4 separate regions of the Homo sapiens genome follow, and all the other regions are linked to region 1. The links come from fine-mapping of genetic effects on gene expression. A gene starts in region 1. Each other region holds a variant in brackets. All regions are shown on one strand. Distances are between the middles of the regions.

The links. PIP is the estimated chance that this variant, and not a neighbour inherited with it, causes the effect.
Region 2: its variant is fine-mapped to the expression of TUB in thyroid (GTEx, PIP 0.94).
Region 3: its variant is fine-mapped to the expression of TUB in ovary (GTEx, PIP above 0.99).
Region 4: its variant is fine-mapped to the expression of TUB in whole blood (TOPMed, PIP above 0.99). The same link has a PIP of 0.9 or more in blood mononuclear cells.

The regions. Positions count from the first base shown.
Region 1 is chr11:8,080,016-8,082,698 of GRCh38, reverse strand. TUB (TUB bipartite transcription factor) reads right to left here and starts at 1,488. Exons shown (of 12, transcript NM_177972.3): 1 at 1,151-1,488. The coding sequence starts at 1,188.
Region 2 is chr11:8,027,802-8,030,484 of GRCh38, reverse strand. It overlaps a transcript of TUB not described here. Among named protein-coding and RNA genes, the nearest start is that of CASC23, 13 kb to the right of the region's middle. The variant G/C (reference allele first, on the strand shown) is at 1,556.
Region 3 is chr11:8,034,145-8,036,827 of GRCh38, reverse strand. LOC124902627 (a long non-coding RNA gene) reads left to right here. Exons shown (of 2, transcript XR_007062581.1): 2 at 770-1,626. It also overlaps a transcript of TUB not described here. Among named protein-coding and RNA genes, the nearest start is that of CASC23, 19 kb to the right of the region's middle. RefSeq lists an enhancer at 589-1,153. The variant G/A (reference allele first, on the strand shown) is at 1,422.
Region 4 is chr11:8,017,772-8,020,454 of GRCh38, reverse strand. It overlaps a transcript of TUB not described here. Among named protein-coding and RNA genes, the nearest start is that of CASC23, 2.6 kb to the right of the region's middle. RefSeq lists a silencer at 1,189-1,258. The variant C/G (reference allele first, on the strand shown) is at 1,485.

The sequences.
Region 1 (2,683 bases):
AAGAGCCCTGTCAGAACTATTTTCTATCAGTGACTGGTATGAGGCTCTAACAGAGAGCAAGCTGTGTTACAAGGCGGGACCTGAGGATCTCATCCTGCCGTCCGCTAGCACGTGCACCTGGGTCGACAATAACACAGTGGGCCTTAGGAGTCCAGCACCCATTTTCCACAGAGACAGCCCCGTAGCCCATGGCAACCAAGGAGCCAATGGGTGGCCAAGAATCTGGCGCTGCCATGGCGATGAGCTCCCTTCCCTGGTAATAGAATGGAGTAGAGTGGATAGGGAAAGACCTGCACCTGTGAGGGGCCCCCCAGAGACCACCTCCCCGCCCCCTTCCCAGGCAAATGGGAAAGCCCAGCCATCCTTGAGATAGACCACAGTGCCTGGCAGCAGAGGGTGGGGGGCTTCCCTGAGTGTGCCTGGATTCTTGAGTGCCTTTCTGCATGTGAGGGCAGTTCTATGTACTGTGAGCTGGTGTGTGTCTAGGTATAGACCTGCTAGCAAGTAGATTATTCAGTGTCTGAAAGAGACTGAGTAGCACTTGTGAGTGAGAAGCAGGTGTCAGTTATTCTCCAGATACAGGAGGTGGACGTGCACAGATATGCAGGCATGTGTCTTTGTGAGCCCAAGAATTCTTGTGTGTAGAATATACGGGTGCATGTCCACATGACCACTGGTGTGCTCTTGGTTCAGAATAACTGTCTTCACGGATCCATGCTTTGAGAGTGTGAACCGACCAGCAGGAGCGTCTTTGGCCCAAGGCAGGGACGTCCTGTGGGTGCATGCGTGCAGATGTATGAGCGTGTGCGCGCACCCTGCACAGGCGTGTGACTGGGGTTCTGGGCCTAGGAGGGGGCTCAGAGCAGTGTGGACTCCTTCCCCAGGCGGCCACATGGTGCTGCCTGACCCAACAAGGCCCACACAGGCCCCTTCCAGCAACCCTGGCAGATAAGGGGGTGGAGCGGGGCAGGCGGGAGCAGTCCGCAGGGGCCCTCAAAGTTGAGGGAGGAAGGACCAGCGACTCCAACCCGCGCCCCAGTGCTGGGATAGGTGGGGAGGGCAGCGGTGCCCTGCGCCCCGGCCGCGTATCCCCAGCCAGCTCACGTCCCGAGTCGGGAGTGGTGGGCGCCCCGGCCCGGCGCCCGCGTACCTGTAGGGAATCCAGTCGGAATGCGGCTTGGAAGTCATGTCTCTCGGGGGCGGGGCGGTGGCTGCGGCTCTGGAGGCCGGGGCCCGGAGGGGCCGGCGCGGGGGCCCTGCTCAGCTCCCGGGCCGCCCCGGGCCGCATCCTCCCGGGCCGGGGCGCTGGGCCCCGCCGAGGCCCGCGCTGCACGCCAGGGCCCCGGCTGCTGGCTCTGCGAGCGGCTGCCTGCGCGGCGCGGCGAGGCGAGATGGGCGAAGCTCCGGGAGTGCGCGGGTCGTGCGCGCGCGTGGAGGCGGGGAGGCCGACCGCACCGTCCCGCGCCCCTCTGGCGCCAAGGCGGGAGTACTGCGTGGCAGCGGCGGCCTGCCCCTTCTCCCTCGCCCCGCCCCGCCCCGCCCCGCAGAGACCCCACCCCCCGGCCGGCTCAGGGCCTGCGGAGCGCCCTTGCCCCCTCCCCCGAAATCGTCGCGATCCACGCTCCATGCGCGTGACCGCGCCGGCTCCCACCTTCGGCTAACGGCGGCGCTGCAGCCGGGCCAGTCCCCAGGCCTCCCAGCCTCAGTTTCGTCTTCTGTGAAACGGGGATCATTCGAACACCTCCCTGTGTACCTGCCCTACCTATCTGCGCTATGGGATGGGAAACCGATGCGCGGATTTGGCGGGGCAGGGACCGGGCCGGAGGCGCGGATGGAGAAGGAATCCAGTCGTGCAGGAAGAGGCGGGGGAACCTCCGGGCCGAAGCGTGGAGGTTGGCCTTCCCTCACCCCCACCTCCGAGTTCCCACACCCCCGCCTGGGGAACCCTCTGTCTTTGGGTTAAGGAGGTGTTTCCTCAGCAGTGGCTCCCTCCCATCTAAGCTATAGCGTCAAGGGAAGGGGAACATTTACGGTCTATTGCATTCCCAGCCCTTGCAAATTTCTAGTATGTAATCTCCACAGTAGCCTTGAGAGACAAACATCATATCCCTATAACCCAGAGAATAGGAATGCTGAGATGCCCAAGGCCGTAAAGCTAGGAAGTGGTGGAGCTGAAACTGTTCTGTGATCTGTGTCCTCCAAAGCCCTTCCTAAGGGGCGCAGTTGACCGGAGGCAAAAACCCCTACAAAGATCATCTGAAAGTCTCTGCGCGCTGAGGAGGTCCTGGCTGTGACTAGGACCAGCTTGAATGCAAGGCATGGCACACTGAGAAGGTGCGGGACCCACAGCAGGGCGGGCGGAAGCAAGGAGCAGCAGGCTGAGGGGTCACCAAGGCCTGCGTGTGGAGCAGGTGATCCGGGAGAGGTCTGCGGAGGGGCACGGTCCCCACACGCCCCGTGGGCGTCCTCGTGTGCATCCTGGATTCTGCCGCGCCAACCGCGCCAGAAGAGTGTTGTGCGGGGATCTTCTGATGATAAATAGGCGGTCAGGACTGCCCCGCAGAGAGTGTGAGAACAGCCAAGGGGGCTGAGGGAGGGGGCTCATCCTGCTGCCCTGGGGCTACAGCCAGACCCCCACCCCAGGGCTCTCCCAGCCCTTCAGCCTTGCCTTCTCTTGCCCATT
Region 2 (2,683 bases), 52 kb after region 1:
GCCCAGAGATCTAACTGCTGCACCTTCAGGACAAACTACATGGCTTAGGATAGACAGCAAAGGTGTGAATCTCCCCCAAGCACATGCTGGGCCAGAATCTCCCAGCTGAGACTCAGGCTCAGGATTTTCCAGAGTGAAGGCAGTAAGTATCAACAGATACCCATGAGCCCCTACTTGGCAACTGTTCTCCAGACTGTAGGCATAGCTGGAGCTTCCTTCCACTTTTGGTCACAGATACAATGTCCCTGCCCAAGGTCTTTTTGCATTTGTTGGACTGCATCCAGTGACCCTATCTGGAAAACCACAGTGCCTGATGATGTCAAACTTCAGCGCGGGCAAGTCCCAAGGGATCTGAAAAGTCCATGCCCCACCTCCATACCCGACTCCCCTCTCCACCATAAATCACCCTGAGCCCCAGTTACACCAGCTGGATGGGAAACAGACCACCCCCCACTCACTGCCCTCTAACGCCATTCCTCATCGACCCTCTGTACACTGCCCTCATTTGCCCCATCCAGTCCAGCTGTCTTGGTACTGTACTGCTATAAATCCATCAAAAGAGAAGTAGCTGCACTCAAAAAGTTCTAAAACAAAGCAGAGCCTCCAGCCCCCTGCCTCTGGTAGCCACCCGACTCCTCTGGCCAGCAACCCCTAAGCTGGCACTGCCACGGCCAGGACCTCCAATCCCAGCTGTCCTGTTCTCATCCCTCCACCCTGGCCTTTCCTATCACAGAACACACACCGAGGCCATAGGTCATATACTCACAGAATGTCAGAACTAGAGAGTGCTCAGACAGGCTGGGTGTGGTGGCTCATACCTGTAATCCCAGCACTTTGGGAGGCTGAGGCGGGCAGATCACCTGAGGTCAGGAGTTTGAGACCAGCCTGACCAAATTGGTGAAAACTCGTCAATACCAAAAATACAAAGATTAGCCAGGCATTGTGGTGGGCACCTGTCATCCCAGCTACTCAGGAGGCTGAGGCAGGAGAATTACCTGAACCTGAGAGGCAGAGGTTGCAGTGAGCCGAGGTCGCACCACTGCACTCCAGCCTGGGAGAAAGAGCGAGACTCTGTCTCAAAAAAAAAAAAAAAAAAGAAAGAAAGAAAAAGAAAAGAACCTGAGGGCCCAAACTTTAAAAGTGGAAGAAGCACATATTTTGTTAAGTTCTCCTCGAAAGGTAAAGTCAGCTTAGTACGAAAGGCTACTTTTACAATAAGAATTTGGCTACTTCTTCAACTCAACAAAAACCTAACTGTGCAGAGAATATCACCAGCAACTGCATGCTTTGTTTGGGAACCCGGGGCCAGAAAAAAGCCACAAGAAGATATGTTGCAGAAGAGACCAGTGTGGGCCAGAATCCACCTTTGGTCACAGATATAGTGTAAAACAAGAGTCAAGAGTCCAGAAATAAACCCATACATTTATGGCTAATTTTGGGGTTTGTTTTTTGTTTTGTTTTGTTTTTGTTTCTTGAGACAGGTCTTGGTCTGTTGCCCAGGCTGGCATGCAGTGGTGTGATCACGGTTCACTGCAACCTCAACCTTCCAGGCTCA[G/C]GTGATCTTCTCACCTCAGCCTCCCAAGCAGCTGGTACTATAGGCATGTGCCACAACGCCCAGCTAATTAAAAAATAAATTTTATGGAGACAGGGTCTCACTACGTTGTCCAGGCTGGTCTCAAACTCCTAGACTCCAAGCAATCCTCCTACCCGAGCCTCCCAAAATGCTGGGATTACAGGCATGAGCCACTGTGCCCGACTCACCAGTTGATTTTTGACCAGGGTGCCAAGTCCATTCAGTGAGAGAAAAAGTAGAAACAAATAGTGCTGAGACAACTGGATTTTCTTTCATGCAAAAGAATGAAATTGGACCACAACTCATACTATATACAGAAATTAACTCAAAATGGATCACTGACATAGATACAAGCTCTAAAACTACAAAACACTGAAGAAAACAGGTAAATCTTCATGGTCCTGGATTTGGCAATGGATTCTTAGATATGACACTATAAGCATAACCAACAGAAAAAAGACAAATTGGACTTCATCAAAATTAAAGCTTGTGCTTCAAAGGACCTTATCAAGAAAGTGAGAAGACAACAATGGGGAAAAACATTTGCAAATCATACATCTGAGAAGAATTTAATATTGAAAATATGTAAAGAACTCCTATAACTCAACAACAAAAAGACAAACAACCTAATTAAAAATGATAAGAACTTAGACATTTCTCTAAGACATAAATGGTCAGATAAGCACAAGAAATAATACTAATCATTTGTCACTGAGGAAATGCAAATCAAAACCATGATAAGATACCACTTCCTAGACTATACTAGGATGGCTATAATAATAATTATAATAACAACCCAGAAATTAACAGGTTATTGGTGAGAAGGTGAAGAAATGGGAACCCTTGTACATTGCTGGTGGAAATGTAAAATGGTGCAGTCTTTGTAGAAAACAGTTTCACGGTTTCTCAAAAAGCTAAAGATAGAATTATCATTACCAAACAGCAATTCTACTCCTAGGTTTATACTACCCAAAAGAATCTAAGACGGACTCAAATAGATATGCGCGCACCAATGTTCACTGGAGCATTTTCACAATAGCCAAAAGGTAGAAACAATCCAAGTGTCCATCAACAGATGAATGTATAAACAAAATGCTGGCTGTGCACAGT
Region 3 (2,683 bases), 46 kb after region 1:
TGGGGCCCGTGCTACTGAGACTTGTGCCATGACCCCCTGGAGGACAACCGGGGAAAGATGGTCAAACAGAACCTCAGGGCTGGATAAACTGCATCTCTCAAGGGTCATAGCTCCCTGGGGCAGGCAGCCCTTTTGAGGCTAAGCTGCTGGATGGTGATTATGAAACCTCCTCATGCACACTCTGAGCATCAGGGTGTTTGCTCTTCCCAGAGCGGTCCCTCCATCTTTGTAGTTGGCCATTGCTGCTTCACCTAAAGCTCAAACACACCTCCCTTCAGTCCTAGTTCTGTCCTCCATGGCCCCACAGAACATGACTCTTCAGTCGGTCACAGTGCTTTGCATTAGTGCACTGAATGGTGAGCACAGCCTTCTAAGAAGGATGCTATCATTGATATTTCACAAAAGGGGAACCTAGGACTCAGAGAGGGGAATTTAAGTGGCAGAGTGCATAGGAGGAACAGGAACCATGTATTCCTATCTGCAGGAAAATAGAATGACTTACTACTGCCAGGCTAGATGACCAGCTGGCTCTGTGCTGCAGTAGGGGCTCAGAAGGGAGATTACAGAGTGGAACAGGCAGGGCAGAGGTGCTTCTGATACATGTCCCCTGAGACCCTCAGGCCTCCCACCGTGACAGGCATCTGGACACTGTGACCAGCTGGCCTAGGCCTGGACCTCGACATAACAGTGTCTCAAGTCCCAGATATAATTTGGCATCTTGGGTACCCCTTCAACACTGATCTTTCTAAAATGTCTGTTTACCTTTTAGGCTAGTGGAGCACAGCCAGGGGAGGACAGGAGGAGGGTATTCTCTGGAGACAGGTGTGCCCCCCTACTGACAGACCCTGCTCAGCAGAACAGAAGCCCTTCAGCGAATGAGACCTACCCTCTGCGGAAGGCTGGTTAGGAAGCATCCATGTCTACTTCAGCGTCTCACCTCCCTGTCACAAACAGATCACCACAGTTTTCCTCCAGCCTCATGCTGTCCTCCCCCTAGAGGAATGTGGGTACATGGAATGTTCTCCACCTCCATGCATGTCCAGTGACGTTTTGGATCAGCGTGTCAGGGACGCTGTCAGGCGTGCCTGCTTGCACTCATCCAGCCCTGGCTGGATGTGATTCTACGAGCAGAGCAAGACCAGCATGTTCTGTCCTCCAGTTATCACAGCAGTTACTCTGGCAACCTGCAGGCCCTCCCTGAGGTGTCTGACGGCTGAAGCAGGGTCCAGTGGGATGGAATGAAGGATGGGCACCCTGGAAGACAGCCCATGGAGGGGCCCTTTGGGTCCCCTGCTGCCCTGGGCACCTGCGAAGAGAGAAGCTGAGCCACCCTGCCTGAGGCAGTAGGCAGTAAGAGCTGAAGGGAGCAGGAGGTTAGGGCCCAGCGGGAAGTGAGAGCAGTGGGGCCAGCACCAGGGTAA[G/A]CTGAATAAAGCTCTCGCCTGAGGCGCAGAATTTAAAGATTTGCCAAAAAACTCAGCAGCCAAGAAATTTAATACTTCCAGCAAATCAAAGCAAAACTGTCCATGATAAACAAGACTGGAGTTAGGGTAAGGCAAGTGAGGCCAATACAAGGCCCGCAAATCCAGTGTTGTATCTTGTCTTTATTAAAGGTTTGATTTTGTTGTATGTGCTTTGCATTCATTTTGATTTAAAAAAATACTATATTGAAATATCATTTATCTTAATTACTGAGCTTGTTCGAGGTCCTTTGAATGTTGCACTTGAGGTCAATGTCTTTCTAGCCTCACCCTAGTCTCAGCCCTGGAGGGGAGGGACAGACTGAGTCAGGAGCAGGAAGGAGCACAGTGCCATTGAAAACGCATCATGCGACAAGGAGCCGGGAGACATGGGTTCCCATCTGTCCCCTTCACAGATTCTCCTCAGTTCTGATAGAATCAGATTCAGATTTCACAAGACTGCAACATGAATATTGCTGCTGGGGAGCACAGGTGCCTAGCATGCACATGGACCCCCTCCATACAGGGTGATAGTGAGTCATAAGGTGGCACCCACCTCCTGCCCTCCGTCAGGTTGTCTGCTAAGGGGAGGAGATGGGAGAAGAAGGGGAGAGGGGAATGGAGGGGGTGGGCAGGGAAGAAGCTGGCAAGTTTGCATGACTGGGAGCAGGAATGGCAGATGAGCTGTAATTGCCTGAAGCTGAGAGAGGCTGTTGATAAATGTTACTAATAATCAACCTTCAGATCTGACACCCAGCTCAGGCTGGGATTACTGTTTTGAATGGAAATTGAACCCAAACCAATAATTACCCTGGTGAGCGATGCCAGTCTTACTCTGGAGCCTGTTTTAGGCAGGGAAATCGCACCTGCATGTCAGTACCAGCCCATGAGGTAGATGATCCAGCAAAGGACTCCCTCCTGGGGTCACACCAAGAGCACAAACTGGCCTGGACTCTGCCAACACAATGGGCCACAGTATCAACAGGAATGCTCACCCTCTTCCTAGAGCTTACAGTGGGTGAGGGACTCCCACCCATCATTGTCAATCTTCAAGCAGAGTCCAGACCTCAGACCCCACTCCCACTGTCCTTCCCCCTTGGGCTTCATGGAAGTCCCTTGTTGACATCATCCCATGCTGTCAGAGCAGGTGCTTAGGGGGAGGGGTGGCTGTCCCCTAAACACAGGTGCAGCCCTCCAATCCTCTGTCTGGGACCCTTGGATAGCCA
Region 4 (2,683 bases), 62 kb after region 1:
GGAGGGGTCCTAGGCAAACTAGCCTTAGGCAGGAGGGACACCTGTTCCTCTGAATCTAGGCAAACAAGGGCTGTCGAAGATGCAGGGAGGTTTTTGGCAGAGTTAAGGGAAGGAGAGCACAGGAAGCAGGACTTCACGGAGATGAGAGCAGCCCAGTAAATGAAGTTTGTCTTCCAGCCCTCACCATCTAGGGTCATGGGTCAGGAAATTTAACTCCAGAATTCTGCAGATGGACTTGGGGTTACGAAACTTAAAAACAACAAACAAACAAACTACTATCTACTATCATCATGGTTTCATTTTAAATACAAGGGTGGCATTTAACACACCAACAAAAGGTAGAACAGGCATAACCTAGGAATAAATGTACTCGGCTTTATGACCAACTCACTCCGTTCTTATTTTTTTCATTTCGCCTGGGAGGATGACTCCTTCCTCCAGGACGAGTGCGTGGGGAGCGCAGCTCCAAACCGCCCACGCCGGCAGCCGCTCGCCATCCCCGCGGGGCGGGCGCGGAGCCTGGCAACTCGAGAGCGCCGCTCCTGCGCCCAGACAGCCGGCCCAGGCTGCCATCTCGCCCCGCGGAACAGGCAGCGACTCGCGGGTCCCCGGCAGCCAGCGGGACACTCCGCCCGGGGCCAGCCTCGGTCCCTGCGGAGGGCCGGCGGGGCGCAGACGCCGGCGGGCGCATCCCAGAGCCGAAGGCGCCCCCTCCTCGCCCCGCCCGCCAGGGGCCCACCCCGGCCCCTGCCCCGCCCCTCCCGGCGCCCCCTCCGCGCCCTTTCTCGGGGTCCCCCGGCGGAGCGACCCTGGCGGGGCAGCTGGGGTGGGGGCAGAGGTGCCAGCTCGCTAGTCCCAGTGGCCGCGTGCCCTCCTCCGACAGCTCTGCCCCGTGGGTGTGGGGACACTACCCTCGCTGGAGCTCCGCTGCGCCGTACCCGAGGCTCTGGGTCCCGGATGCCCGAGGGTCCGGGTGCCCAAGCCCACCCTGGGGGTCGGGCGCTCGCGCCAGTCCTAGCCCCCGGAGGCCCGCTTCTCCCGCAGGAGATCGAGGGTCAGCAGGCGCTCACGCAGGGCCACCCTTCGGGCGCCCTACCTGTCATAGCTCCAGCGGCTGTAAGACAGGGTCCGGTGGCTGCTGACTCCCTCCATCGCCGCCTCCGGCTCCGCTCGGGGCTCCGCGGGCGGCGGCGGCGCTGGGCTTGGGGCTGGCTCGCAGGCTGCGGGCCCGGCCGAGGCGCGGGCGGAGGACTGTACCATTCGCCCCCCGGGGGGTGACCCCCTCCGGCTCTGCCAATGGCGGGGACGCGCGACTGCGGGGACCCGGGCCCGTGAGGCCCCCTCCCCCTCGCTCGGGTCCCGCGGGGGCGCGGCTGCGGCAGCCTGGGCGCTTATTTATTTATTTCCGAGGTGTGCTCCGCGTCGCCATGACAACCGCTCCATCTTTTCCGGCGTCACTAGGGCACCGCTGCTTTCAAACCTTC[C/G]CGGGACAGGGGTTGCTAAGAGGCTGCTCCGGCTCCTGCTTGCTTGGGAGTCCCGGATCCGCTGTCGCCACTCGGGGCCCTTCCGCAGAGGCGCCCTCCTTTCCGGCGTGGGAGTCTTCAGCCAACCTCCCACAATCAAGTTCCCCCCTTCTCAGGAATGGAAATAGCCATCCCCCAATTTCCTAGATTCCCGCCGTCTCCCCGTCCCTTCTTCCCCAGGGTGGAAGTCTTGAAACCACCGTCCCCTCCTCTCTTCCAACTGCCTCCCTCCTTACTGAGAATGGAAATCCACTACTCCCTCCCTCTCTCCCGGGTGGATTCCCTCGGCCCTGCTATCTGGTCTATTACGGCCCTCTTGGGTTCCGAAGACCAAGCTCTGTAAACACTCCCATTTCTAGGCCACCTTGTTCTGTTTATGTCCCTTGTGCTTTCTCTTCATTACTACTAAAAATCCTTTGGAAAAAGTCCAAGTGTCTTGGCTCAGCCAGGGAAGAGCTTGTCTGACAGTGACCCAGGGAAGGCTATGGCGAGAAAGCCCGCCTGGGTGGGGCGGGGTGGGGAGGGGTGGGGCAGGGAGAGCCAGCTCGCGCCTTCTTGTCTGCCCCGGGCCCCCAGTCCCTTCCCATCCCCCATCTTAGGCTGATGGCTTTAGGGATTTACAGGTATAATCTTCTTGCAGAGGTCACAAGAGCCTAAGAAGGACCTTTCGGGCAGTTGCTGTGGGGTGGCTGGCTAACTTCACGCCAGGGTCAGGGTGGGGTGGAGGTGCCAGGAGGCTGGAGCGCGAGGAGGGGGAGGTAGGGTTTGCGCTACGCTAATCCAAGGATCCTGACAACTCCTGTGAACTAGAGCTAACCCTATGGGTTACAGAGGTTGCAACTGGCAGTGCACCTGTTGCATCCAGCCCACAATCACAGGGAAAAAATGCTTTTCACTGAATAAATGGACAACACTTAAAAATTGGGAGATTTAATAGATCTAGCTTTTTATCCTCTCTTGAAAACTAAGAATGTCTGCCAGTGCTGGGCCTGTCTTCAGCATGGCAGGCATAGAGCGCAGTAGTGGCTGTCCTCTGCACCGGGAGCAGGGAATATGTTGTTCTATAAGCCTCTGGCCCTAGCTGGCCAGCTTTTCTCTTACATGACTTGCTTGGTCCTTATAGCTTTTAAGTTTACCATTTCTGTGCAATACAGCCATCT